Linked DNA regions of Homo sapiens. The protein of the gene in region 5 purifies or fractionates together with the protein of the main gene of each other region. This does not show direct contact. Each region holds a gene or a part of one and is shown on either strand. Other genes may lie near its edges.

Evidence for each region.
Region 1: the proteins of MPZL1 (region 5) and POLA2 purify together in Homo sapiens (affinity purification with mass spectrometry; one large-scale study listed by BioGRID and IntAct). This does not show direct contact.
Region 2: the proteins of MPZL1 (region 5) and IFIH1 purify together in Homo sapiens (affinity purification with mass spectrometry; one large-scale study listed by BioGRID and IntAct). This does not show direct contact.
Region 3: the proteins of MPZL1 (region 5) and CCT8L2 purify together in Homo sapiens (co-immunoprecipitation; one large-scale study listed by IntAct). This does not show direct contact.
Region 4: the proteins of MPZL1 (region 5) and ZNG1A purify together in Homo sapiens (affinity purification with mass spectrometry; one large-scale study listed by BioGRID and IntAct). This does not show direct contact.
Region 6: the proteins of MPZL1 (region 5) and FTO purify together in Homo sapiens (affinity purification with mass spectrometry; one large-scale study listed by BioGRID and IntAct). This does not show direct contact.
Region 7: the proteins of MPZL1 (region 5) and TRDN purify together in Homo sapiens (co-immunoprecipitation; one large-scale study listed by IntAct). This does not show direct contact.

What each region holds. Positions count from the first base shown.
Region 1 is NC_000011.10:65,278,962-65,282,461, reverse strand, and holds part of POLA2 (DNA polymerase alpha subunit B), read right to left. Parts: intron 2,925-3,500; coding exon 2,836-2,924; intron 1,471-2,835; coding exon 1,315-1,470; intron 793-1,314; coding exon 730-792; intron 1-729. UniProt on the Homo sapiens protein: Accessory subunit of the DNA polymerase alpha complex (also known as the alpha DNA polymerase-primase complex) which plays an essential role in the initiation of DNA synthesis.
Region 2 is NC_000002.12:162,270,185-162,273,684, forward strand, and holds part of IFIH1 (interferon-induced helicase C domain-containing protein 1), read right to left. Parts: intron 2,204-3,500; coding exon 2,042-2,203; intron 1-2,041.
Region 3 is NC_000022.11:16,590,251-16,594,310, forward strand, and holds CCT8L2 (T-complex protein 1 subunit theta-like 2), read right to left. Parts: upstream 2,561-4,060; 5' UTR 2,301-2,560; coding exon 627-2,300; 3' UTR 501-626; downstream 1-500. UniProt on the Homo sapiens protein: Possible molecular chaperone; assists the folding of proteins upon ATP hydrolysis.
Region 4 is NC_000009.12:165,557-169,056, forward strand, and holds part of ZNG1A (zinc-regulated GTPase metalloprotein activator 1A), read right to left. Parts: intron 1-3,500. UniProt on the Homo sapiens protein: Zinc chaperone that directly transfers zinc cofactor to target metalloproteins, thereby activating them.
Region 5 is NC_000001.11:167,763,482-167,766,981, reverse strand, and holds part of MPZL1 (myelin protein zero-like protein 1 isoform a precursor), read right to left. Parts: intron 1,400-3,500; coding exon 1,233-1,399; intron 1-1,232. UniProt on the Homo sapiens protein: Cell surface receptor, which is involved in signal transduction processes. Recruits PTPN11/SHP-2 to the cell membrane and is a putative substrate of PTPN11/SHP-2.
Region 6 is NC_000016.10:54,116,656-54,120,155, reverse strand, and holds part of FTO (alpha-ketoglutarate-dependent dioxygenase FTO), read right to left. Parts: 3' UTR 1-3,500.
Region 7 is NC_000006.12:123,630,451-123,633,950, forward strand, and holds part of TRDN (triadin), read right to left. Parts: intron 1-3,500. UniProt on the Homo sapiens protein: Contributes to the regulation of lumenal Ca2+ release via the sarcoplasmic reticulum calcium release channels RYR1 and RYR2, a key step in triggering skeletal and heart muscle contraction.

The DNA.
Region 1 (3,500 bases), on a different chromosome or scaffold from region 5:
GCTCAAGTAAGGTCTTGCGCCAGGCATCACCTTGGTAAGGAAAGGGGAGGGCACCAGGTTGGGGGTGGTGCAGGTGTGTGATGGGAGGACAGTGGGGAGGAGCGAGAGGGCAGGGGAAGGATGTGCCTCTGTCTTGCTCCCTGGATCTGATGGGACCTGCCATTTTTCTATACTGCTCAGAGGGCAAAGAAACCCAGGTAATGGGAGGTCACTACTCAATTGTCATAAAATACCCAGCAACAAGTGGGAGCAAAACAGGTGCCTAAAGTATCAGTGTACTTCTAGGCAAGGATGGGAGAGAATGGTTTCTTGCTACTTTTCCTGGCATTCTACGAAAATCTCTGGAGGATTGTTGCCTAGAGCAGGGATAGGTAACCTTTCGGCCTCTGGGCCAAATTTGGCTGCAGCCCACTATTTAAATAAAGTTTTATGGGAACACAGCCACAGTCATCTGTTTAAGAGTCCTCTATGGCTGCTTTTGTAGACAAAGGCAGAATTGAGTCATTGTGACAGAGACCATATAGCTACAAAGTCTAAAAGAGTTACTGTCTGGCCCTTTATAGAAAGGGTTTGCTGACCCCTGGCCTAGGGGTGGGTTCCCACTTACAGATGGAGAACTGACTAACAAATAAATGGGCTCCTAAAAAGGACCAGTTTCTAGAACAGACAGCTTCCAGACATACTTTGTCTGAAGCAAACCAAGAGGCAAGTGGGGGTACTGCTGTGTACCTCGTAGAGTTTGGTGGCAACAAGTTTCCTACCAGTGGTGTTGATTCCTTCCATAATTACAACCTGAAAGACAAAAACAAACAGGATTGCTAAGCAGTGGAGATCAATGAGGTCTGGAATACATTATTTTGAGGCAGTTAAAAGCATTGTCCAACTACTCTCATTCTGTAATCATAAACTTAGGGCATTTTTGTAGAAAACGAATTAAGGGCGTTGCATTAGTAATAATAATTATGCTCTATATAAGTGATCTAATTTTCACAACAATCCTATGAGGTAAGAATTATTATTTCCATTTTGTGAGTGAAGAAACTGTAGTTTAGATGGTTAAGTACCTTGTGCACAGTCATGCACCTCATGGAGCGGGGAGTTGGGATTTGAGGCTGCGCAGTCAGGTCCCAGAGCCTGGGTCAGAGCATGGGGGAAACAGGAATCCCAACAGTGGTGTCTGCTCTGGGGCATGTGCTCCAGCTGCACCCCATGGCAGCAGAGACAGGAACTGAGGAGCAGCTGCGCATGGCACAGCACCTACACTACAGGGGTAAAGAGTGCGCCTGCATTCTGGTGGAACTCCTCCAATCTCACCTGTCCAGGAAACAGAGAATATTCCTTAAGCTCAGATAAATCCACTGGAATTTGAGCACCCGAGGAATGTTCCCGGTCTCCCTCGAGAATCACTGACTTGTTGTTCAGCTTCCCGTTGCTATCACAGCCAATCTGGCCCAGCAGAGTGACAGGCTCCTACCAAAGGAAGGTCACAGCATAAGAATGACAGTCTTTGGAGCAGGAGCTCAAAATCTGAAGTCGATAGGGTGAATAGCAAAACAAACTGCAAACAACAAATACATTTCTTGGCAGGGCATTGCTTTGACCCTGAGGTGACTACCGCGTCATCACTGACTCTCAGGATGGAAGAACTCTGAAAGGGCATCTTGTCCACCCATCCACCCAGCACTTGAGCCTTCCTAGGAGGCTGCCTAAGTGTGAGCATCTCTAGTGTAGGGGAACTTGCCCCTGGATGCCTACCCCACCCTGTCCTCACCACCCCAGGGCAGCCCACTGCATCTTTGGGCAGCTATAACTACTTAATAATAGCTAACATTTCTTGAGCTTACTAAATACCATGCACTGTTCTAAAATGTATTCTTAGGCATTTTATATGTATTAACTCATTTAATCCTTGCAACAACCATCGGGTGGATATTACTGTATCCATTTTACAGATGAGGAAAACAAGCAACAGAAAGGTTAGATAATTTAGTCAAGGTCAAACTGTGGGTGAAGCTTGGGTTTGAAACCAGAAATTTGGCTCTAGAGCCATATCCTTAGCCACATACCATACAACCTCTTAACAGGAAGTTCTTTATTAATTGAGCTAAAATCTCTGTCTCCATGGCTTCCTCTGTTCTGTTCCCACTCTTGGGAGAAAACAGAGGAAGTCTCATCTTTCCCAGTGATTGTGCCTCCCTGCCTTCCCTCAATTACTTCCTTCCAAGTCCTCTAACACTTCCTTCTATGACACAGTTCTGCATCACTTCCCCAACTGATCATTCTTTGAATGTAAACATTGACAAAGGTACTTTAAAGAAACTTCTAGAATATATTTCCCCTTAGATTAGAAAACATTCTAGAGAGAAAGCACTGGTATATATGCCAGATTAAACTATGATATAAAGATACTATTGGCAGCAGTTTGTCTATAACAAGAGACCAAACCAGGGGAGAGACTGTGAGTCATTGTCCAGAGAACAAGATTCTGAAAACCCCACCGTCGCTGCTGTCCTTTTATCTCGATACGTGAATGCTTCTATTTGTGGGAAATCCCCGGGGAGCTACCTGACTCACCACCAAGGGAAACAAGGCCTTGAGTCTCTGCTTATGTGCAAGACTCTAATCCAAGTGGGAAGAAAATCACTCTCTGGCCACAAAACCAGACAGCACTTACAAATCTTTCTTCAGAAGGGCCCATTTTCCCAAATTCAACCAAGACAGATGTTCAAACTAGAACACAGACAAGAAGTGAAAAAGGAAGCAAGAAGGATGCCTCTTGGTCATCGATTTAAAAACGTAATATTAATTAGTGAGAACTATTAGAACAACTCTTACCTGTGCTGGGGCTAGCAAAGGAGTGAAAGCTTCAATCTTGTAATGTTCCTTGAGTTCGCTGCCAAGTTCTTCTATCTTACAGGTCAGAACTACAATCCCAGAAGTGGAAAAAAGTATTATGTTTAAGACATTTCACTTGCCAAGAAGAGAAAATACAGCACATTGTAAAATATTAAAGTCAGTCATTTTACAGAAGCAGGAAGGGTGCCTGGACATCTGGCCAGTTTAAACCTTCTAAAACCTTTGCCAATTTTCCGATATTTGGTTGCTGAATCTGGCCTTCCATCTGGCCACAGGAGACCCCATAGCACAATTCCAGGGAATCAGCATGAACCCCACCCCATCTCCAAGTCTGCCCTTTACTCAAGTCCTCACTGAGGTTTTAGGCAAGTCAAGGCCAACCTGAAGAAGGCTTCTAACGAAGGAACCATGAATATCTTTAAGTTGAATTCCTTTACATCGTTCAAGTTTTTGCTGCTGGGAATGGTTATGTGCGTTTTAGCAAAGTGAAGTGACTTGGGGCAATCACTGATAGTATTGCCCGTGTCCCTCCATTACTAGGGCTTCCATGAGGACATCTACCAACTCATACATTGAAAGGCAACCTTGGAACTTGTTCTACCAGCCTAGCTGAAGCTTTGTTACTCTACACCCTTCTAGGTGGT
Region 2 (3,500 bases), on a different chromosome or scaffold from region 5:
ACAGCTACAATCAGCCTAAGTCCAAATAAAGTGTAATAATGTAGCAAAAAAATTGAATCAATGCTAGAGAAAAACATTTATGATGATCAACTTGCTCCTAGAAGTCTGATTTAATTTTAAGAAGCTCTGTTATGTTTAAACTGTGTTTATGACATGGAAGAAAGATTTCATCTTATCTGTCAATTCTCATCATTCATTAGTGGTTGTCTGAAGATTGTGTTGAGAAAGATGCTCAAATTAGAAGAAAGTAAACATCTTCCCAGTAGCAATGTTTTCTACAGGCTTTGAACAGATTACTGGTGGCATGTAGCCCTCCTTCCCCATTGCCACTCCTACTCTAAGTTCATCTACCTGAAGTAGTTTTAGGAGGGCAGGTTTCTTGGCCAAAGGAGACCTAAAAATATAGTCCATTCTGGGGCACCCAAAGGGACAGAGTCTTATTCTAAAGAATGTCTGGAAGAATTTGACCCTTAAACTCCAGAGATTGTCCTAGTGTTGACCCCCAAAAAACTACTCTTAAAACATCAGTCTTTGTAAACATCTACTTGATTAATTCTCTTAGGACATTAACTGGGAGGCAGTAACTTTCCAGTGGCATAATTTGGTGACAAAAGTTTGATTTGATACTCTAAAATATTTGCTTTGCCTTGTATTTAAAGGGGTTTTAAAATAAAGTTTTGTGCAGAAACCTGGTCAGGAAACCTTGGAGTTGGTAATAGCAATGCACACCAATTTGAAAGCATCCCTTTAGTGAAACTCTATTTAAGGTAGAGCCAATTCCAATGTTAAGAAACTAACATTCACACCCATATGCAAGGGTGTGAATTTTCTTCTAAATGGATTGTTTGCTATTATAGTAGTTACAGTTTTTAATTCAGTGGTATGGGGGATTTCCTGAAATACTATAGAAATACATTCTTTCTTCACTGCATTCCTTTGCACAACTCAAATAACTGTGTGTTAGTAAATTGAGATGTAGCTAGATGACATATTCTGTATTTTCTTATCATTCAGATGCAGCTTCCCTGTCACTCCTTCTAAGAGACCTTCCTCAACCACCCAGTTGAAAGTATCCATCTAGTCTATGCAGCCATAAAAAAGGATGAGTTCATGTCCTTTGTAGGGACATGGATGAAACTGAAAACCATCATTCTGAGCAAACTATCACAAGGACAGAAAACCAAACCCCGCATGTTCTCACTCATAGGTGGAAATTGAACAATGAGAACACTTGGACACAGGGCTGGGAACATTACACACCAGGGCCTGTCGTGGGGTGGGGGGAGGGGAGAGGGATAGCATTAAGAGAAATACCTAATGTAAATGACAAGTAAATGGGTACAGCACACCAACATGGCACATGTATACATATGTAACAGACCTGCACGTTGTGCACATGTACGCTAGAACTTAAAGTATAATAAGAAAAAAAAGAATTTCAAAAACTACTAAAAACAAGAAAGTATCCATCTAGTCAGTTGTTTCATATCATCCTATTCTAATTCTCTTCACTTATCTTGATATATTATATTTCTTGTCTTTTAATGTTTGTTTACTGTTTCTGTCCTCCAAACTTCACCAGGCACACACTAGAAATATAAACTTCGTGCAGCAGGAGTCTTATGTGTTTTGTTTCCTCTGTTGGCTGTTCCTATAAGGTTACCTGGCACACAGTAGGCGTTTCATCTACATTTCTGAAATTAAAAAACTGTGCCTTTACAAACAAATTGGATCAAACCAAAATTACCATGTTGGATTGAATCAGTGAGTTGCAGCAGTCTTTCTGGAACAAGGCAGGCTAAATTTATATTATCCAAATTTATGGTTGGTTTTACTGGAATGAGGAATGGCTCCCTGATAATTTCCTGCCCACCATGGATCTTGATTCTCTGCATGTGAATCTGGATTAAGCACAGTTCACTAAACAGAAACTTATAATTCAGCACAATTTTTGTCTGGAGAATGAGTCACAGAGATATCAATGGCAACCACATGCCGCCATTTTTAAATGAAAATCAAATTCAGAGGTGACCAACAATACCTTATGAGCATACTCCTCTGGTTTCATATTTTGAACACAATGTATAGCTTTATACATCATCTTCTCTCGGAAATCATTAACTGTCTCATGTTCGATAACTCCTGAACCACTGTGAGCAACCAGGACGTAGGTGCTCTCATCAGCTCTGGCTCGACCACGGGCCTGAAAACACAAATAAATCAAGTAAATGAAAGGGTACGTTGTGATACAAATCCTCCTGGTTTTTTCTGGGAATGATATTCTTGCTCAGAATGAAATGATATTGGGTTGTTCAGCATGCCAGTCTTCAAATGGGTAAAGTTAGTAAAGTTAGTTATTAATCCATTACTTGTAAGTCAGCTCTTTGAAACTTATAATATGCTTTAATACAGAAAAAGTGTTCTAGAGTGATGATGGTTAGGCCTCAATGACATAATATCATCCTGTCCAGGCTTTTTGCTCTCAGAACTTCTCTCTCAAACTATGAGAACCACGATCAATGACTTGGACTGAGGAGTCGTCTTTCTTGGTAGGAAGCTGGGAGGAATGAATGGAGAGAAGGGTCATCTCTGACCTTGACACTAGGGCTGGTGAGAAGGCAGGTCAGTTTCTGGCATCCTACATTACATTCTTAGCACATTTTCCCATGGGAACATATTTAACATGGTGATAACTTTCTACAAGCCTCTTTATGAAAGTGATATTCAGGTATATTTTGATTAATAGAAACTTCTGTGGCCTGGCCCAGGAGCCTATCAACTATAAAAGTATCCTCAAGGAAAAATGTATTCTAAGTTTGATTACTAAGCTTATCACTGACTTACAAATAGACTCCTGAAATAAAATTATTTGCTAATTTGATGGCAGTCTGGTTATCTTAGTCTTCTATGACTTGCCTTTTATTCAAGGATGCAATTTAAGTTATTTAAAAATCCCTTTAGTTAATTTTATAGGAAGAATAGTGTATCTATTAATCAGCATAACACCTATGCCTACTCAACAGGTTACAATAATGCCATTAACATAGGTGGGTAAGAGATAAAGTGAAATCTGAATGAAAACAGAACATTTCACTCTTTTATTTATTTTTACATTTATAAGTCTGCCCCCAACCAACATTTTATCATGAAAACTTCTAAACACACAGAAAATTGGAAAGGATAAGGGAAGAAAATGCAGAAACAGCAGGGCTCCCTCAGGTTTGGGCATGTTACTTCATCAGACATTTGTGGGACAGTGTACTTTAGATTCCTGGTCCAGCTGGGGGCTCACAGACATCCTAGGAAAGAGGAGGCTGCTTTTGACTCTTACAAATGGGGCTAGTGTCATGGTCCTGGAAAGCCTTAGGGTACAGAAATAGCTAAAGAGGAGTTGTTGTTTAAACATACAACAGGTATCTGGTTATTATATGAATTGACAGCAATATGAAAGGCAACAGTGCACAGCATTTTAAAAATGCTCTTTTAACAGGAAAAAGGCT
Region 3 (4,060 bases), on a different chromosome or scaffold from region 5:
GAATGCTCAAATAGTTGGGAAGAGATTGCTGCACTGTGTTTTGCACGCCCAAAGCCCACATAGGTACTCAGTTTAAAAATCTTAATAGAATTGAATCCTGCTCTTATCATAGGAAAGGAAGAGCATCTGATAGAAACACAAAATGAAAAGGTCAAGAACTGGCTGGGCACAGTGGCTCTCGCCTGTAATCCCAGCACTTTGGGAGGCTGAGGCGGGAGGATCATGAGGTCAGGAGTTCGAGACCAGCCTGGTCAATATGGTGAAACCCCGTCTCTACTAAAAATACAAAAAATAGCTGGGCGTGGTGGCGCGCACCTGTAGTCCCAGCTATTCAGGAGGCTGAGGCAGGAAAATCGCTTGAACCTGGGAGGCGGAGGTTGCAGTGAGCCAAGATCACGCCACTGCACACCAGCCTGGGCAACAGAGCAAGACTCCGTCTCTCAAAAAAAAAAAACAAAAAAAGTCGAGAACTGGAAAGGAACTAAGCGCATGAAAAGAAATTTTATGTTCCTTCATGTTTTTATTTAAAGAAAGTGAATCAAGTACCAAACACGGAATAAAGGCAAACATTCATTTTTGGGGTGATTGTTCCCTTCTTGGCAATCCCTGTTTTATTGAGGGTATCACTAGTTATTCAATCCAAGGATTTTTTTTGTTTCCACAGGAGGTGGGTGTTTCTTTGTCTTCTTAGAGTCAGGATTCCAGATCTCCTGATGTGTGGGACTTTTCTTGGCCACTACGATTTCATCTACAGTCACGAGCTGTAGCACCACCTCAGCCACTGCTCGAAATCCTTGGGCTTTGACTATTAGGGTGTCCCACACCCCTTCCTGGGCCACATTTATTATCCCTTCAGTTCCCACACCCATTAGGAGGTTCCCACCTTGGTGCACTCCACTCATTTCTGCCATCACGTCTGAGACAGCTAAGCCTGCATTCTCTGCCAAAGTTTTAGGAAGATACTTCAGGGCCCAGGCAAATGCTAGGAATGCAGGCCCACTGGGCCCTTCCAATCTGCTTCCTTTATCAGAAAGCATTTTTGCCAAAGCCATTTCTGTGGCCCCAGCTCCTGGAATCAGTCTGGGATCTTGACATAGCTGGAAATAGGCATCAATGCCGTGGTAGACGGCCTGCTCTGCACTCCGCAGCCCCTGGGTGGTGGCTCCCCTGAGAACCACAGTGAGGGCAGGTGTGCCTGTACATTCCCATTCAAATACCACAGCCAAACCATCTCCCAGCTCCTGCCTGTAAACCCTCTGGCACTTGCCTGGCCTCTGGGGAGGGAGCAGACGAGGCAGCAGAGGTGTGTCCAACACCTCACTCAGGTAAATGATCTCCATCCAAGACCTAGCTTGAATCACCACGATGCCATACTTGTCCGCCAGTGTGAGGGTCTCCTCGTCGACCTCCCCCAACACCACTGCCACATTAATTCCTGCAGCTGCTAGCTGGCCTACTTGCTTTTCTAGTAATTGATCGCTTCCTTTACTAAATTGAGCTAGATCAGCAGGACTAGAAAGACGGGCCGTTGCTGGTGCATTTGGATGGGCAGGACCAAAGGGGCAAGCAAAGAGAGCCACCCTGGCACCACTTAACACTGTGGCCATTTGCCCACAGAGCTTCCCAGATATTGCTAACCCCGGGAGGAGGCAGGAATCCTCCAGTGTCCCCCCGGGCAGCGCGCACACCCCAACACGCTCAGGCTTGAAGCTGCCGTCTAGTTCCTTGATAGCCCAGCAGGCGTGGGCCACCAGCTTGGTCAAGTGGTCCATGGGGGACAGGGTGTGGGTATTCATCACAGAATGGAGGGCCCAGGATGGATCTTCCAAAGGCCCCAGAGATTGGATGGCCAGGGAGGGCAGTGTGGCCAGGACCTCTGCAGTGGCCGTGGCGTAGGCCTCCCGGAGCTGCGGGCGAGGCAGGCCAGCCTTCAGCAGCTGCTCTGCCTGTTCCAGCAAGGCTTCCGTCAGCAGAACCACGAAGGCTGTGCCGTCCCCACTATTCTCTGCCTGGGTTTGTCCTGCTTCCCGGAGGAGCCATGCTGCTGGGTGCTCCAGCTCCAGGGCCCTGAGGATGGCAGTGGCACACCCCGTGCACACTGTTTCTCCTTTCATGGTCACCAGGAACTTCTGCCGGCCGTGGGGGCCATAGCAAGGCCGGATGACACTGGCCAGGGTCTGGACTGCAGCCAAGCTGCTCAGCAGGTGGGGCTCCTCCTCTTCTGGACTCCTCGGGCTCTCCCTTGGGTTCAGTGCCAGCCGCTGGGGCAGCTCCAGGGCTGAAGGGACTGTGCTGTCCATGGCCCGCAGAGAGAGGAGAGGCCACCGTGGGTTGCAGAGATGCTCTAGAAACAGCAGCTGGGGCACTCCTGACACCGATCGTTGAAAGTACTCAAGAGGTCAGTGGAAGCAAGGAGCCAAATGCCCATTGATTGGTATCTGAAGACATCAGCACGGACCAGCACTCCACTGTGGGTCCAAGGATGAGCTCCAAAGAGCCCAGTCCTAAAGCCACCCCAGGGTTGATTCTGTAAAGGAACTGGGTCTTGGGGCCTCTCAACCTTGGTGGCTGAAATGGGATCTTTAACTGATGAAGTCACAAAGTGGAAAATGGAACCAGGATAGAGAATGAGGTCACAGAAGGCTGGTTAGAACTGAGGAGGCCCTACCAGCAGGCAAAAGTCAGGCCTTGTCCAGCAATGGAGGTACATGCACCTCTGCACCAGGTTTGAGACTTGTTTAAACGTAAGAGACAATGAGGAGGAGATCAAGTGAAAAACTACCCATTTCACCCTATCTGGAGTGCAGGGGCATAACCATGGTTCACTGCAGGCCCAGCTCCCTGGTCTCAAGCAGTCCTCCTGCTCAGGTTCCCAAGTACCTGGGACTACAGGCACACACCACCACACCTAGCTAGTTTTTTTATTTTTTGTAGAGACAGTGTTTCTGTCTGTTGTCCAGGCAGGTCTCGAATTCCTAGCCTCAAGAGAGCCTTCCACCTTGGCCTCCCAAAGTGCTAGGACTACAGGTGTGAGCCACCACCTCACCCACCCTTTTTTTTTTTTTTTTTTTGAGACAGAGTCACACTCTGTTGCCCAGGCTGGAGTGCAGTGGTACAATCTTAGCTCACTGCAACCTCCACCTCCCAGGTTCAAGCAGTTCTCCTGCCTCAGCCTCTCAGTAGCTGGGATTACAGGTGCCAGCCACCACGCCCGGCTAATTTTTTATATTTTTAGTAGAGATAGGGGGATTTCACCATGTTGGCCATGGTTGGCCAGGTTAGTCTCAAACTCCTGGCCTCAAGTGATCCGCCCACCTCGGCCTCCAAAAGTGCTGGGATTACAGGTGTGAGCCACTGCACCTGGCCTTTTTTTTTTATTTGAGAAGGAACTGAGAGATGATGTCTGTGTTTTGTTTTGTTTTGGTGTTACTTTCTCTTGCAGTACTGTGTAATATTAGCCATGTTTTGCTGTCTGCCTTTGACTTTTTGGGTATCTTATCAGTTTGTGCTTGTGTATCAGGTTTCTTAGGGTGTCTGTTGGTCTTTCAGGGTGCAGGTGTGGGAGGCTGCACAGCGTGCATGCCTGTGCCACGACTCCCAACTCTGCCTCCCTGGCAGAGGCAGGGCAAGACAAGTGGGGAAGGATGCTGACAGCTCACAGACAAATAGAAGTGAACCCAGAGGGGTGAAAAGCAACCAGCCTCCCAGCGGTCAGGGAGGTAGAAGCCTAAATGGGGTCCTGAGATTTAAATGCGAATCGCCTTCCCATCCTAACCTTCAATGCTTACAATTTAAGTCTCTTTTTTTCATTCTCTCTCCTTTCCTCACTTGTCTCCTCTTTCCTCCTATAGAGCCTACTCGGGTAATGATGCTTCTGCTTTAGTTTAACACATATTTAGTCTGGGCGTGGTGGCTCATGCATGTAATCCCTGCACGTTGGGAGGCTGAGGCGGGAGGATTGCTTAAGCTCAGGAGGTTGAGGCTTCAGTGAGCCATGATTGCACCACTGCATTCCAGCTAGGGCAACAGAGTGAGACTTGTCTCAAAAAAAATAGGGGAA
Region 4 (3,500 bases), on a different chromosome or scaffold from region 5:
CAGGGAATATTTGGCAATGTCTGAAGATGTTTTTGGTTGTCTTAACTAGGGGAATGCTACTGGCATCTAGTGGGTAGAAGCCAGGGATGTTGTTAAATATCCTACTCTGCACAGGGCAACCCCCTCACAACAAATAATTATCCAACCCAAAATGTTATTTGTGCTGACACTGAGAAAACCTGAACTACATTTTAGAATCTCCCTTCTTCAAAATCTAATAAAACAAAAAATAAAAACAAAAAATAAAACAAAAAGGCCAACATTTTATTAGCAGCAACCAAATATAAAAGGGCCTGCCATAAATTTTGAAGACTGATAGTCAAAATAAGAAACAAAGTTATATGTGATTGATGGTCATTCCCAACTCTACCCCTACCTCCAATAAGAGGTTGTAGGGAAATAGTTTACAAAATCCTAAACACTTACCAGAAATACACTCCAAAATGACAAAAAGTAGAGCCGAGGAATGAATAAGCAACACAAGGAAAAGTCAACAAAAAAATTTCAAGAGTGAGTTTTAACCATCTCTTTGCTTTGGGAAGGAGAAGGTCAGGTCACATTCTAGGGCTCAGAACAAAGAGAAATGAGAGCTCTGAGGTCGAATGATGTCCCCATACAAGGCAAAGGAATTTTATTCATAAGCAGTTGGGCAGACCCAAGAGTGAAATACTTGGTACTTCAAGAGAGCAGAGCCTAAAAGCCACATTGCCCCATTTGGCTCTCTGAATCACCACTTTTCCCTTCTCTTTCCCTCCACTCCAACAATATACAGCTTTCAAACTAGGGCTCAGGAGAAAAACAAACTTGGGTAAGGAGAGTGGAGTATTAAAAATATTTCCCATCAGCACCACATAGAAGTTCTCCCACATCAAGAAGAAACATGTATGCATATGTATTACAGCCTGACAAAAAGAAACACGCACATACAGGGAATAAAAAGCAAGAAAGAACACAAAATGAAGAAATGAATAGGGCACACAAGTGGCAAAGAACCCATTCTGGAAGGATACATAACCCAATAAAAACTAAAGAAAATTCTCAACAACTTCATCATAATGAAGAACTTGAAAACAATACAACCTTATAATAAACAAGCTCAAAAGCAAGAAGAAGCAGAATAAGATGAAAATGCGTTTGTAGCGCTAAAGAAACTTAGAGCCTATATAACACAATGACTTAACCAATTAATTCATTTAAAATATCAAAAACAGGACAGACACTGGAGAAAACAGAATTATTGACAAAAAGAAAGGCTTCAGATGATCACAGTAAATGCAAAGGTAAAAGACAAATCAAAGCAATTAGAATACATACGAACAACAAAAGAAAATTCAGTATTAAAAAAACTGGTGTCATGAAGTAGAGGATCTAATAATTTGACCAAAAAAAAGTATTCATGGTAATAAACAAGGAAAATGTTCTTAGAAGAACTAAGGGCATACTATAATTTAGGGAAAAATGATTATAAGTGACACTTAGATATACCTTGTTTATATTACTGAATTTCAAAAATAAAGAAGAAAACTCTCAGGCATTTTAGATTAAAAAAAAAAATTGCCTTCAAGGAGGTAGGGAGAAAAATCAGACTTTTCTACAGTAACACTAGATGTCCCAAAATAATAAAACAGGGACCACAAAGTTCTAATGAAAGTGTTCCCAAACAAGTTATTTTTCAGGAACGAAAGCAATAGACAGACATTCTCAAGCATTAAAGAAAACAGCAAGCATTGAAACTCAGAGACTATAATACTCACAAATTCTTCCTAATAAAAAGAGAAAACATTGGACAAAGAAATCCAGCCAATCAAACACTAGGAGATTATGGAACAACATTTACAAAGTTGAGGGGGAATAAAGTGTGACTGATAAATTTTATACCTAGCCAAGTAATCCTTCAAGTAATATAAAAACAAAAGACAAATATTTTGAATCAATGAAGTGTATAAGAACCCAAAGAATGCATGCAGTACCTGTAACTTGAAAAGACTGCCTGACAATGAAATTCAATCAGGAGATGGACTAACTCGGGAATGGAGAAGCAACAGTACTGGTAATAAGCACCAAAACTATTAAAACATAGAACTAAAAGAATTATGACAGAACCATGACAACATAAAGAATATGATCAACATGAAACTAGGCCAATTAATATCCTACAATGGCCTGTAAGTGTTCAAGTGAAAGGAACAGTCACCTGTTTCTCACTTTAAATCAAGAGCTAGAAATGATTATGCTTAGTGAGGAAGTTATGTTGAAAGCCAAGATACGCCAAAAGCTAGGTCTCTTGAGCCAGTTAGCTAAGTTGTGAATGCAAAGGAAAAGTTCTTGAAGGAAATTAAAAGTGCTACTCCAGTAAACACACAAATGATAATAAAACAGCCTTATTGCTGATATGAAGTGGTCTGGATAGATGATCAAACAAGCCACAATGTTCCCTTAAGCCAAAGCCTAATTCAGAGCAACCCTAACTCTCTTCAGTTCTATGAAGGCTGAGAGAGGTGAGGAAGCTAGAGAAGAAAAGTTGGAAGGTAGCAGAGGTTGGTTCACAAGATTTAAAGAAAGAAGCCATCTCCATAACATAAAAGTGCAAGGGAAAGCAGCAAATGCTGATATAGAAGCTGTAGTAAACTACCTAGAAGATGTAGCTAACATCATTCATGAAAGTAGCTACACTAAGCAACAGACTTATTTTTTATTTATTTATTTATTTATTTTGAGATGGAGTCTCGCTCTGTCACCCAGGCTGGAGTGCAATGTGCAATCTCAGCTCACTGCCACCTCCGTCTCCCGGGTTCAAGCCATTCTCCTACCTCAGCCTCCCAAGTAACTGGGATTACAGGCTCCCACCACCAAGCCAGGCTAATTTTTGGTATTTTTAGCTGAGATGGGGTTTCACTATGTTGGCCAGGCTGGTCTTGAACTCCTGAACTCGTGAACTGCCCACCTCGGCCTCCCAAAGTGCTGAGATTACAGGCATGAGCCACCGAGCCCGGCCAGCAACAGATTTTTAATGGAGATGAAATGGCCTCCTTTTGGAAGAAGATGCCATTTAGGACTTTCATAGCTATAGAGAAGTCAATGCCTGGCTTCAAAGATTCAAAGGACAGGCTGACTCTCTTGTTAGAGGCTAAAGCAGCTGGTGACTTCAAGTTGAAGCCAATAATCATTTACTATCCTAAAAATTCTAGGGCCATTAAGAATTATGCTAAATCTCCTCTGCCTGTTTTCTATAAATAATAAAGCCTAGATGACAGCACATCTGTTTACAGCACGGTTTAGTTTAAGCCCACCATTGAGATCTACTGCTTAGAAAAGAAAAGATTCCTTCAAAATATTATTGCTCATTGACAACGCACCTGATCACCCAAGAGCTGTGATGGAGATGTACAAGATTAATGTTGTTTTCATGCCTGCTAACACAACATCCATTCTGCAGCCCACTGATCAAGGAGTAACTTTGACTTTTAAGTCTTATTTAAGAAATATATTTCATAAGGCTA
Region 5 (3,500 bases):
TTAAGAAAAATGTGAAAAGGCTCCTTTTAAAAATAAATTTTAAAAAATACTGAGAAGCACTGCCTTAGGTAATCCCTAAAACCTATGAGGCCGTAAATATTATTAGCAGATTTTTCTACCTGAGAGAGAAATAATACATAAGGGAAATCATACCGTATTGAAGTTTAAACAATTCTAACCTGTGTGGTATGGCCACAGGTGAATAACTCTTGAGTCAGTGTCTCCCATCCTCCCCACCCTGTCTTCCTCATAGAGCTGTGAAGATTAAATGGCATAGGCATATGATGGGCCCAACATCTAGGTGGTGATCAACAATGTAACTCACCATTCAGAAGAAGAATTGGGCATTCTTAAAGATAGATGACAGACTGTCCTTGCTAAACACTGACAACCTGAAACATGCAACAGTACTAAAATATGTGCCAATATATGAAGGGCATTCCACATGCTGGGAGAGCAACAGTAACAACAAATGGTGTATTTTAGTAACTCAAGAGCTAGACACTCTCCTGAGCACTTATCTTGAATAATCTTACTTTATCCTCCTAACACCCTTGTGTGGGAGGTTTTATCGTCTCCATTTTACAGACCAGAACCAAGATAGTCAGTTCATGTTTAATAACCAGCACTCCACTAGTTACTAAATAACCTTTTTTCAATGCTCTGGTGCTGTATTTCTGTTACATCCTTTATCTTACTCCAAAGTCATCTATATATCAGCCTTCCTCCTAATCATCTCTAGGTGAGAGCAAGGATTCTGTTTTAGACATTTTTGAAGGCCCTACATAACCCACTACATAGTAAGCTCCCAAATCAATATTGCTAAATCAGATGGACTATACGCTAAATTAAAAAAAGATAATCAAATCAGAAGATGCATACATATATATATAAAATTTGATAATACATAAAACAAATATCAATAAATATGGGGCAATAAAAGATGAAAAGATGCAGGATAAATCCTGATTAGAGTCAGTGTGGTCAATTAAGATCAATTTCAGAATGGGATTTGATGGTGGAGAGGAACTGATCAAAGACAAGGAAACCAGACGCATTTAAGAGATGCTGAACTTATTTTATCCTGAAGCAAAAGAAGGGCCTTGAAGTCTATAACAGATAAAAAATACACTCATTTTGGAAATGAACCATCAGAAAAATGGATCACCAATTATACAGCAGTAAAGAAACCTGTGAGGCAGGACTAGCCAAGAGAAGTCAAGCATTCTTACCGACACAGTAGTGTCGGCCCCCTCTGGCTGGAAGCTCCAGGAGACTGAGGTCAACCCGCCAGTCGTACTAGTAGACTTGAACTTGCAGGTCAGCTTCCCTTGTGTACCATTTGCCACGAAGATTTCTTTTGGCGTATATACTTCCAAGGCTGATACTCCAGCTGTCACTGAAGAGAAAGGAATAAGGGTAGTTGAAAGTAGGACTTAACATGAATACCACTGTGCATTTTTGCCAGACAAGAAAAGATACAGCAAAGTTACTAGATATATACAGTAATTCACTGCCATTACATATTTCTGGCAGAATATTCTACAGCTAAGTTCAATCAGAATAGCACTATAAACAGAATAATTGCTGACAGTTTAGGTTTGTATTGCTTTTTAGTTAAGATATTTTTATTAGTCTGGTTATATTGAATTTTTTTTTTAAACTAATAGACTTTTTAAAGAGCAGTTTCAGGTTTACAGAAACATTGAATAGAAGGTAGAATTCTCATATTCCCTCACTCTCCCATGGCCAACCTGTTTCTCCTATTATTAACATCTGGCATTAGTGTTATACGTTTGTTTTAATTGATGAGCCAATATGGTTACATCATTGTTAACCACAGTCCATAGTTTACATTAGGATTTGTGTTAGTGTTGTAGATCTTATGGATTTTGACAAAGGTGAATAGTGACGTCTCCACCATTACAGTATCATACAGAATAGTTTCACTCCCTAAGCATCCCCTGTGCTACACCAATTTATTCCTGCCGTCCTTCCCCCCACACCCCTGGCAAACACTGACCTTATACTGTCTCTATAGGTTTGCCTTTTCTAGAATGTTATCTAGTTAAAATTATACAGCATGTAGCCTTTTAAGGTTGCCTTCTTTCACTTAGTAATATGCACTTAACTTTCTTCCGTGTCTTTTTGTGGCATAATATCTCATTTCTTTTTATTGCTGAATAATATACAAATTGTATGGATGTACCACAGTTTATTCATTCACCTACTGAAGGACTTCTTGGTGGCTTCCCTGATGGTCTATTTTTAATGAGGTGATGGGCATATTTTTATTTCTTTAAGTAGTTCTCATGCTTATCTGTTACGCAATTGTTATCACACTGAACTTTTCTCATCATCCATATGTAATGCAATTAAAACTATCCTAAGATATAACTTCATTTTAAAGCCACATTTATTATTTAACTGATCCTTTTCTTATAAAGAACTTAAGGAAGAAAAATGCATGTTTTGGTTTTGTTAGTGCAATCATACCTACCATAAGATTTCACTGTGCTAGGTAAGTAAACAGCTGATTACACCGTATATCACATTTTCATTTCACCCATCAAGTTTTGTCAGTTAGCCTAAGCCCAGGAAATAGTAATTGAAATGTGTCTACCACTTAGAATATAAAAATGGCTCTTTTTTCAAGATCTGCAATAGTAGGCAACTGCAGGAATTGTTAAGGATTGCTGTTAAAAGTATTTGCCAAATTCTTAAAGATTGCTAATTTGAACATACTGCTATAAAAGAAATGCTTTCACAGACAAAATGAAAGTCAGAAAAAAAAAACTTATTTGGCCCAAAATTGGTAACTTAAAAATACCCATCTTCCATATTTTTTAAAGAAATCGTTTGGAATAAATATCTGCAGTGTTGCAATAATTCTTAGAATGTAACAGACGGGCAGAATAAGGAAGAGTATTGTCAGCCAGGACTGATGGTCATTTTCAGAATTTTTTCTCCTTGAAGACTTAACTGACTCTCAGCCAAGGAGAACAAGAGTACTCCCCCATTCCTCCCAACCATCTTGCAAATGTTTATTCTCAGGACATAATGGGCACTTTTGGCTATTCTTTTAAATAAACTGATAGCCATACTGCATCAAGCAGATTTTTTTTTCTGCGAAAGAGGGTGGATTATTATTACAGGGAACAATAGATTATTATTTGCGGTCCAAACCTCAAAACAAGCATTTCTTTCAGAGGAGATGCAAACAAAAGAGTTCCTTGCTATTGTGGGTACGCAGAAAAGCAGCCCCAGGGCACTTGAGTTCAAAATGAAGGACAAAGCACAAGACTAGACTAGTGGACCAGCTTATTCCAGGAAGCAGCACTGGCTTGCAACCCTTATTCACTCTGTGTGATTTTGACTAGTTTTCTCCATGGTGATGAGTACTGGAAAGCCACAGTCTCTAAAAGTCTATAAATAAAGTTTCTCAAGGATTTTCTTTTCTTTCTTTCTTTTTTTTTTTTTTGAGACCGAGTCTCAATCTT
Region 6 (3,500 bases), on a different chromosome or scaffold from region 5:
CAAGGCTGTCAAATTCACTTTGATTTTGGCCTCAGCTGGGCTTCATGCTTTCAGAACAATTTCTCCCACCGCCTTTCACTTGAAGTCCTTGGCAGGGATGCCTCTCCCATTCTGCACGCACAGCTCACTTAATGGGCACAAAGAAATGGGAGAAAGCTCAGGGAAAAAAGAAATAACAACCCGACCCAGTCTAAATCTTGGGAAATCGAACAGGGTCTGCATCTCTTTGAAAACTATACACAGACATTTCTGGTCGAAGTGAAACCATGCTTCTCACAGAGGGTTGGAGACAGCAAATGGAGCCTTAGTCATACACAGTTAGTTTCAAACTTATGTTGCTGCTCACAGGGAGAAATCAATGTACGGTATATTAAAAACAATCACTGCAGCCCTTAAATGATCCAATAGTTTAGCTTTGAATGCATTCAAGCTAATGGGGGCTTTAATGGCTTCTGACAGATCATTCCATTGATCAAGGGGCATGTATGAAATACGCTGCCTACTAAACTCTGTTTTGATTTTGAGAAAAGAAAACTAAACGTCCATGGTAAACATGGCTTGATTGTTCACATGTTCACCGAGATCCCTCTCAGCGTGACCCTGGTTGGGAGCAGAGGAGGGAAGGATAATGGAATCCTATATACCTGGTTTGCTTCTCTCCTGACTCTAATCAAGGCATAATCAACGGGAAACCTCTGTCTGCAGAGTTGGGGGCAGGGGGAAGGAAGGTGACCAGCGGTCCAGTTTTCTGGGTTGGATGAGTTATAAGCCACGGCTTTGGCTGTCTGAGAAACTGATTCATCTCTTGCAAGCCTTGGGGGTTTGAAGGTTAACTGTTCTGGTTCCAACGTGGAAAGCCGAATTCCCTATTTGAAAGGATAATCAGGTTTTTCAGTTGGGGACAGCAGTTTTGCAAAGAAACAAATGAAATCATGCTCCTCCATCCGTGTGTCTGGAGGCTCCAAGATTATTTTATGAAGTGCTGAACGTACCTCTACTCAAGAAAGGCAGTTTCCACAGGGTGCATGGAGTCTGAAAAACCTAAAGAGGCCTTAACATGATTCATTGAGACTATTCTTGTGCAAGAGAGGTTTCTATTTCTCCAAGCCCTGGCAGCCTGCTGTGGCTTTAAGAGTGAGCCATAGACTGTTCCTGTGTCAGACTGGTCTTGCCTGATCAGAAGTAATGAATGTATGTAGAAATTCTTCCATTACCCAGCCAAACTAAATTGGTTTCACAAAACGAATAATAATAATTTCTCTCCCTTGGACTTGAGTAGGACTTTAGCATTTACAAAGCCTTTTTCCAAATGTTATCTCCACCTGCTAGCTGCACAGTCGTGGTTTTACCTGTGTGGATGGGGATGGATCTGGCTTGTGGACCCTCTCTCCTTCTCTCGGAGGCTGGGAAGGGAAGAAGGGTGCCCTTGAAACTGGCACCACGAAGACAGTGATCACCTGTGGTCTTTGTTTAATCTTTAACACCAAGCAAGGCTGTGTGGAGGGCAAGGCGTAGTGGCTCACGCTTGTAATCTCAGCGCTTTGGGAGGCCGATGCAGGCAGATCACTTGAGCCTCGGAGTTTGAAACCAGCCTGTGTAATGTGGTGAAATCCTGTCTCTACAAAAAAATTAGCCGGATGTGGTGGCAAGTGCCTATGATCCCGACTACTTAGGAGGCTGAGGCAGGAGAATCGCTTGAGCCCATGAAGTCGAGGCTGCAGTGAGCCGTGATCTCACCACTGCACTCCAGCCTACGTGACAGGGTGAGACCCTGTCTGAAAAAAAAAAAGAAAAAAAAAAAAGACTGTGTGAAAGAGCTTCATGCCATTATCACTAATGAAGAGGGTCAGAATTACCCGAAGCACACAGGATCTGGAACCATTGAACTTCTCCTAAACTTCCTGTAGAACGGTCTTGACCCTTTTGGCCCCACCTGTAGGGCACCTTGCTGTCCTAGGCCAGCACTTCCCATCTCTCAGCAGGAAACTACCGCATTTACCAGATCAGAAACAAAGGGAATCTCCGCCTGCTAGAAGTGCTTCATTTGTATTGGTGCCATGTTTAGTCAGTGGCTTTTGTAAAATTGATGAATTTTGTCTAAAGGCAAGTGCAGACAGGCAAACAGATCTGTATCTGCTGTTATCCATTTAGCTTGACACACATGTGCAGAGGAACTATTTTACCTCAATTCTTTCAGGATTGATGAAAAGTAAATGCGAGCAAAGTCATGAACTGCATCATTGGAAAAGAATCACTGAATCTAATGCTGGAGGTTAATTAATGCTTCCCTCCCCTTGAAATAGACTGACCCTGGTACTTAGACATTCAGAGTCAATAAACAATTGTTGTACACAGATCATCCATTAGAAGGTGATGGCAAGAATTTTTTTAAGCAAATCCAAAATTGCAATGGGTGACCTACTCCCACTGTAGAAATGAGAGTCCTAAAACATCATTTTTCATAATATCTCATTTATAAAAAGTTCCATGCCATCCGCCTAGCGAAAAATGGAAGCTGTGAAGAGCAAATGGGATAATATATGGGATAGTGACACAATATTCTTCTTGAACAAGCCACAGCTATCTTTAGTCCCTTTAATATTTTGGTCAGGATATCACGGATCATATTTTTCATCATAATAATGTACATGCGTGGCGTGATTTTTAAGTACCAGACATGATATGAATCACTTAACATGGCTGATCGTAGGGGACAGAACAATCCAATGAGCTAGGCATTATCATCATCCCCATTATAGAAACAAAGACTGGAGCGCAGAGGGGTTAAGTGATTTGGCCCAGTCACAAAGCTACAACTGTTACCACAGGAAACTTGGTTAATAATAATAGCTAGTACCTCACTGAAGCCCAGTATATGTCAGGTACTGTGGGAGGCATTTTAAATACGCATTAACTTATTGAACCTTCACAACAACCTTAGGTGATGGATTACTACTATTCTATTTTGTAGATAAGACAACAAAGGTTTGAAGAGGTGGTAGAGTGAGAATCACACACAGAATCAGAACTTAAACTCAGAAAACCTCTTCTGCCACTCAGGAATCCAAAGATTTGGAAAATCTGATGAATGACAGCGGGATAGAAAGAGCAGAGGATGCAGAGAGGCTCAGTTTCCAATGTAGGAGGAGGATTTGGGCCAGAGAGCAGGAAGAACTTGGCTGACAAGGTTCTGAGAGGTGGGAATTAGGACTGTCCTGGGAGCATGGGGCCGATGGGACACAGGACTATGGGAGCAGGGCTGCCTGGGAACCGGGGTGGAAAGCTGTCTGGTCCTTCTAGCCGGGATCTGGGGGGCACTTGTGGTTCTCCTTGTTAATAAGAGAGAATGGAGAACCAGATCTTCAGATACTTTCCTGGAGTTTCCAGGAATCTATCGGGTGTCTCAGGTGAGCGAGAGAACCAGGTGAATGCCTTCTGACAACCCCCAAAACCTGCCTCCCAAACACAGCAGTGGCCCAGGGGTGCCCTTGCTGTCTTGC
Region 7 (3,500 bases), on a different chromosome or scaffold from region 5:
AAATTAATGCCAACAGTATTGGAGGCCTTAAGTCTCTATGGATTCCTAAGCCTTTAGTATAATAACTGAATAGCCTCAATTCATTTTTGCATTGTAAAAGTAGCATGAATTTTAAATTACAGTCATAATGATAACCAAAAATAAATAGGAAAAAAAATAAGAAACATTTAAGCTCATAAACGGAACATTTTCATGGATACTATGTGCTTATGGGGTGGGGAGAAAAATAGTTCCTATTACAAATAATAATAAAAACTACAAGAAAAAGCTTCTTAACGGAACCTAACAAGGGCTGACACTACACAGCTATATTTTCTGCTCATTGTCACTGCAAATTTTGTATCATGGATGATTTGAACAATTTAAAAAACATAAACTTAATTTGCCAAATAGCATGATCTTGTAAAATTTTTAAAAATTCCTCTGGCCATATTATTTTTAATTAACCAAGTTCATGACCCTTCTTTTGAGGCCCCATCCTCCCCAGACCAAGAGTGGTTGAGTAGTGGAGATAGTGCCTGAACCCCAATTTCTGACTTAAGTAAAACTCCATGCACTTACTACTCTATCACACTCTCTTTTCTTAATGCTTCTTTCTCCCAGCTCTGCACTATATTTTCTCTCTGATTTTCAGTGAACTATACTCTCCTGGTTTTCACAATCTGCTTTTTTTTTTTTTTCTATTTTCCTAAAGTGAACTTGAGCAGTAAAGAATAACAAGAAGTTTCAGAGTCAGACTAATCAGGTTTATGTGATACCTGCCTTTCACAGTTTTTGTGATATTTCAAAGAGATAGTCATACAAAAGCTTCATACTTAATACCCTGTCAATAAATGCAATGTTCCAAGCCATAGCACTTTTTAGAACTATTTTTTCTTGCATCATGTTGACTTCTTAGGCTTTCAAATTGTTCTCAGGTTTTCCCATGACCTATCTCAAAAACAAACTATTTCTAATTAATGTCTCTAATTAATGTTACCAATAATATGAAACTAACCTCCAGATTCCCATATTATAATAGATATTAAAAATGATTACTTCCTTGTCTGCTTTTACAAACATAAGTATATTTCCAGACTACTCTGCTTAATATGAGCATATTTGGTTTTCATTTCAGTAACAACAGACACTGTTCAATTTAGAGAGTAATTTGCACTTACGAATAAATTTGGTGACCAGAGAATTCACTGACCCATATATGTTATGAAAATTAAATTCTTATTAAAAGATTTACTCTACTAACAACATCAACTCTGTTTTTTTTCTTAACTCTTTATTGTGAAGAAGCTTAAATAATCCCAAAAGTAGACAATATTATAATGAAACTTAATGTACCCATTATCAGCCTCAACATAATCAACTAATGGCCAATCCTACCCCACCCACACCCCAACTACTTTCTTCTTGGGCATATTATTTAGAAGCAAATTTCAAATATCACATCACCTCCTTCATAAATATTTGAATGTGTATCTCCAAATAATAAGTAATTTTAAAAGACAACCACAATACGGTTATCCCACTAAAAATATAATTATTCATTAAGGTTATCTAACATCCAGAGTATATTAAATTTTCACTTGTTTCATCAGAATTTTTTAAGGTTGTTTGTTTGAATCATGATCCAACCATTCCATACATTGTGATGGGTTGCTAACTTTTTACATTTCTTTTCATCTGTTCTCCAGATTTTCTTGTTCTTGTTCCCAGGAACTTATTTGAAGTAACTGGGTTGTTTGTACTGTAGAGGTTCCCAGAGCCTACTGCCTACTATGGTGTAGATTTTGGCATATTCCTCATCCCTCTATTTCTTAAAAATTGGAGGCTGTGTATTTCCTTTTCCTTCCCTCCTTTCTTGCTTTCTCTTTTCTTTCTTTCTAGTCAGAAGAGTCAGTTCTAGCTATCATTTTAATGGTTGGTTGGGTTTTGCCTTGTATTTTGCCAATAGTGTGCCTTTTTTGTGACTTCCAGACTTTTATCCATGGGTCTGTGCATTGCCCTCAAGTGCTACATAATGAAAAAATCCAGTCTTCTACTTAAACAAACCATGCACAAATCTTTTCATTTAACTGTGCCTTTCACCATCGTGGTACTCCTCTTTTGAATAGGCTAGCTTTCTAATGTCAGTTTTAAAATGTACTTATAAGACTAAAAATAATATATGTGGTATGTTGCTTTATCAGGAAAATCAAGAACATCTCCTGGAAGTGACCAGGGCTTGAAACTAGTGCTACATCCCTTTGTACCCCCAGCTCATCCCCGCTTAAGCCAGGGCAGCTGCCCTTTGCTTTGATGAGGTAAATGCAGAAACATAGGTTGGATCGCCTCATAATTTCACCATCTGTCATGCTAGATGATATAACTTGTTTGCCTAGTTGTTAAGTAGTCTGGCTGTGAATTCTTGATTTTTTTTTTTTCTTGAGAGCAATAGTGAGTAATCTTGTGCTGCAGACTCTATGGGAGTAATGCAGTGTGTAGAATATAAATGACCATTTTTGCTCTAAATTTTGAATATCAAATCTTCTCATAGGTTTGATTGTTACAGAAGCAGTGAAACGTGATTCGGCTAATGGTAAGGAAAGAATTCCACACATAGTGCAATAATTCTTCTCCTGAAGCCTGAGGTTATGTAATAGTTTATAAGTTGAGAGTTGGATATAAGCTCTTCTAACATTTTAAATAAAAAGCTTTCTTGAACTAAGCGTTCTAGTAAATACTAAGTTAATTATATATGGGATTCCCAGCAACTTGGATACATTACATTGCAAGGAAGATAAAGGACTGTTTATAGCCCTAAACCTGTGTGCTGTTTGAGTGTAATCCAGTCTGGGCCTGATTCAACCTACCTAAATGTAACATGGTCCTAGTGTAGGCTCCAATAACAACCTAATTGACCAACCTAACAGTCTCACACAGTAAGAAGACATATCCAATATGACTCTGTGGTCAGGCATGGGTATGAATCCTAGCTATATCACATACAGTTGTGTGAATTCTAGCACATTCTTTAAACTCTCTCAACTTCAGCTTCCTATTCTCTAAACAGCAATAATATTAGCCTTTATTCTCATTTGGTGGCCCTGAAGATTAAATGAATATTTATCAAGCTTAATACAGTGCTTGACATCTTATGTCTTCAGAATAAATATGTTATCATTGCTGTTATAATTATCTTTATTAATTTATTTTGCCAGAATCAAAGGTGTTATTACCCTAAAATCCTTTGGAGTTCAACTTTGTCCTATTTCTAATTTATCTATTACTCTGTACCTGAAACACAATTCTGTATTTAGCATTATTTCCTTTCTTCCACTGGATGAAGTAAGCCAGCTTGGAACCTGCAGTGGAAATTGATGTGAGCAACTAGGTGAGGTTATAGGCACGACATGCACTGTAGTTGAATAAGCACTGGGATGAGCCATGGGAGGCATGAAATTTATCCTCAGATCTCTCCTAATTTCCCATGACCATGAGACAGTCATATAATCTGTATGAGCCTT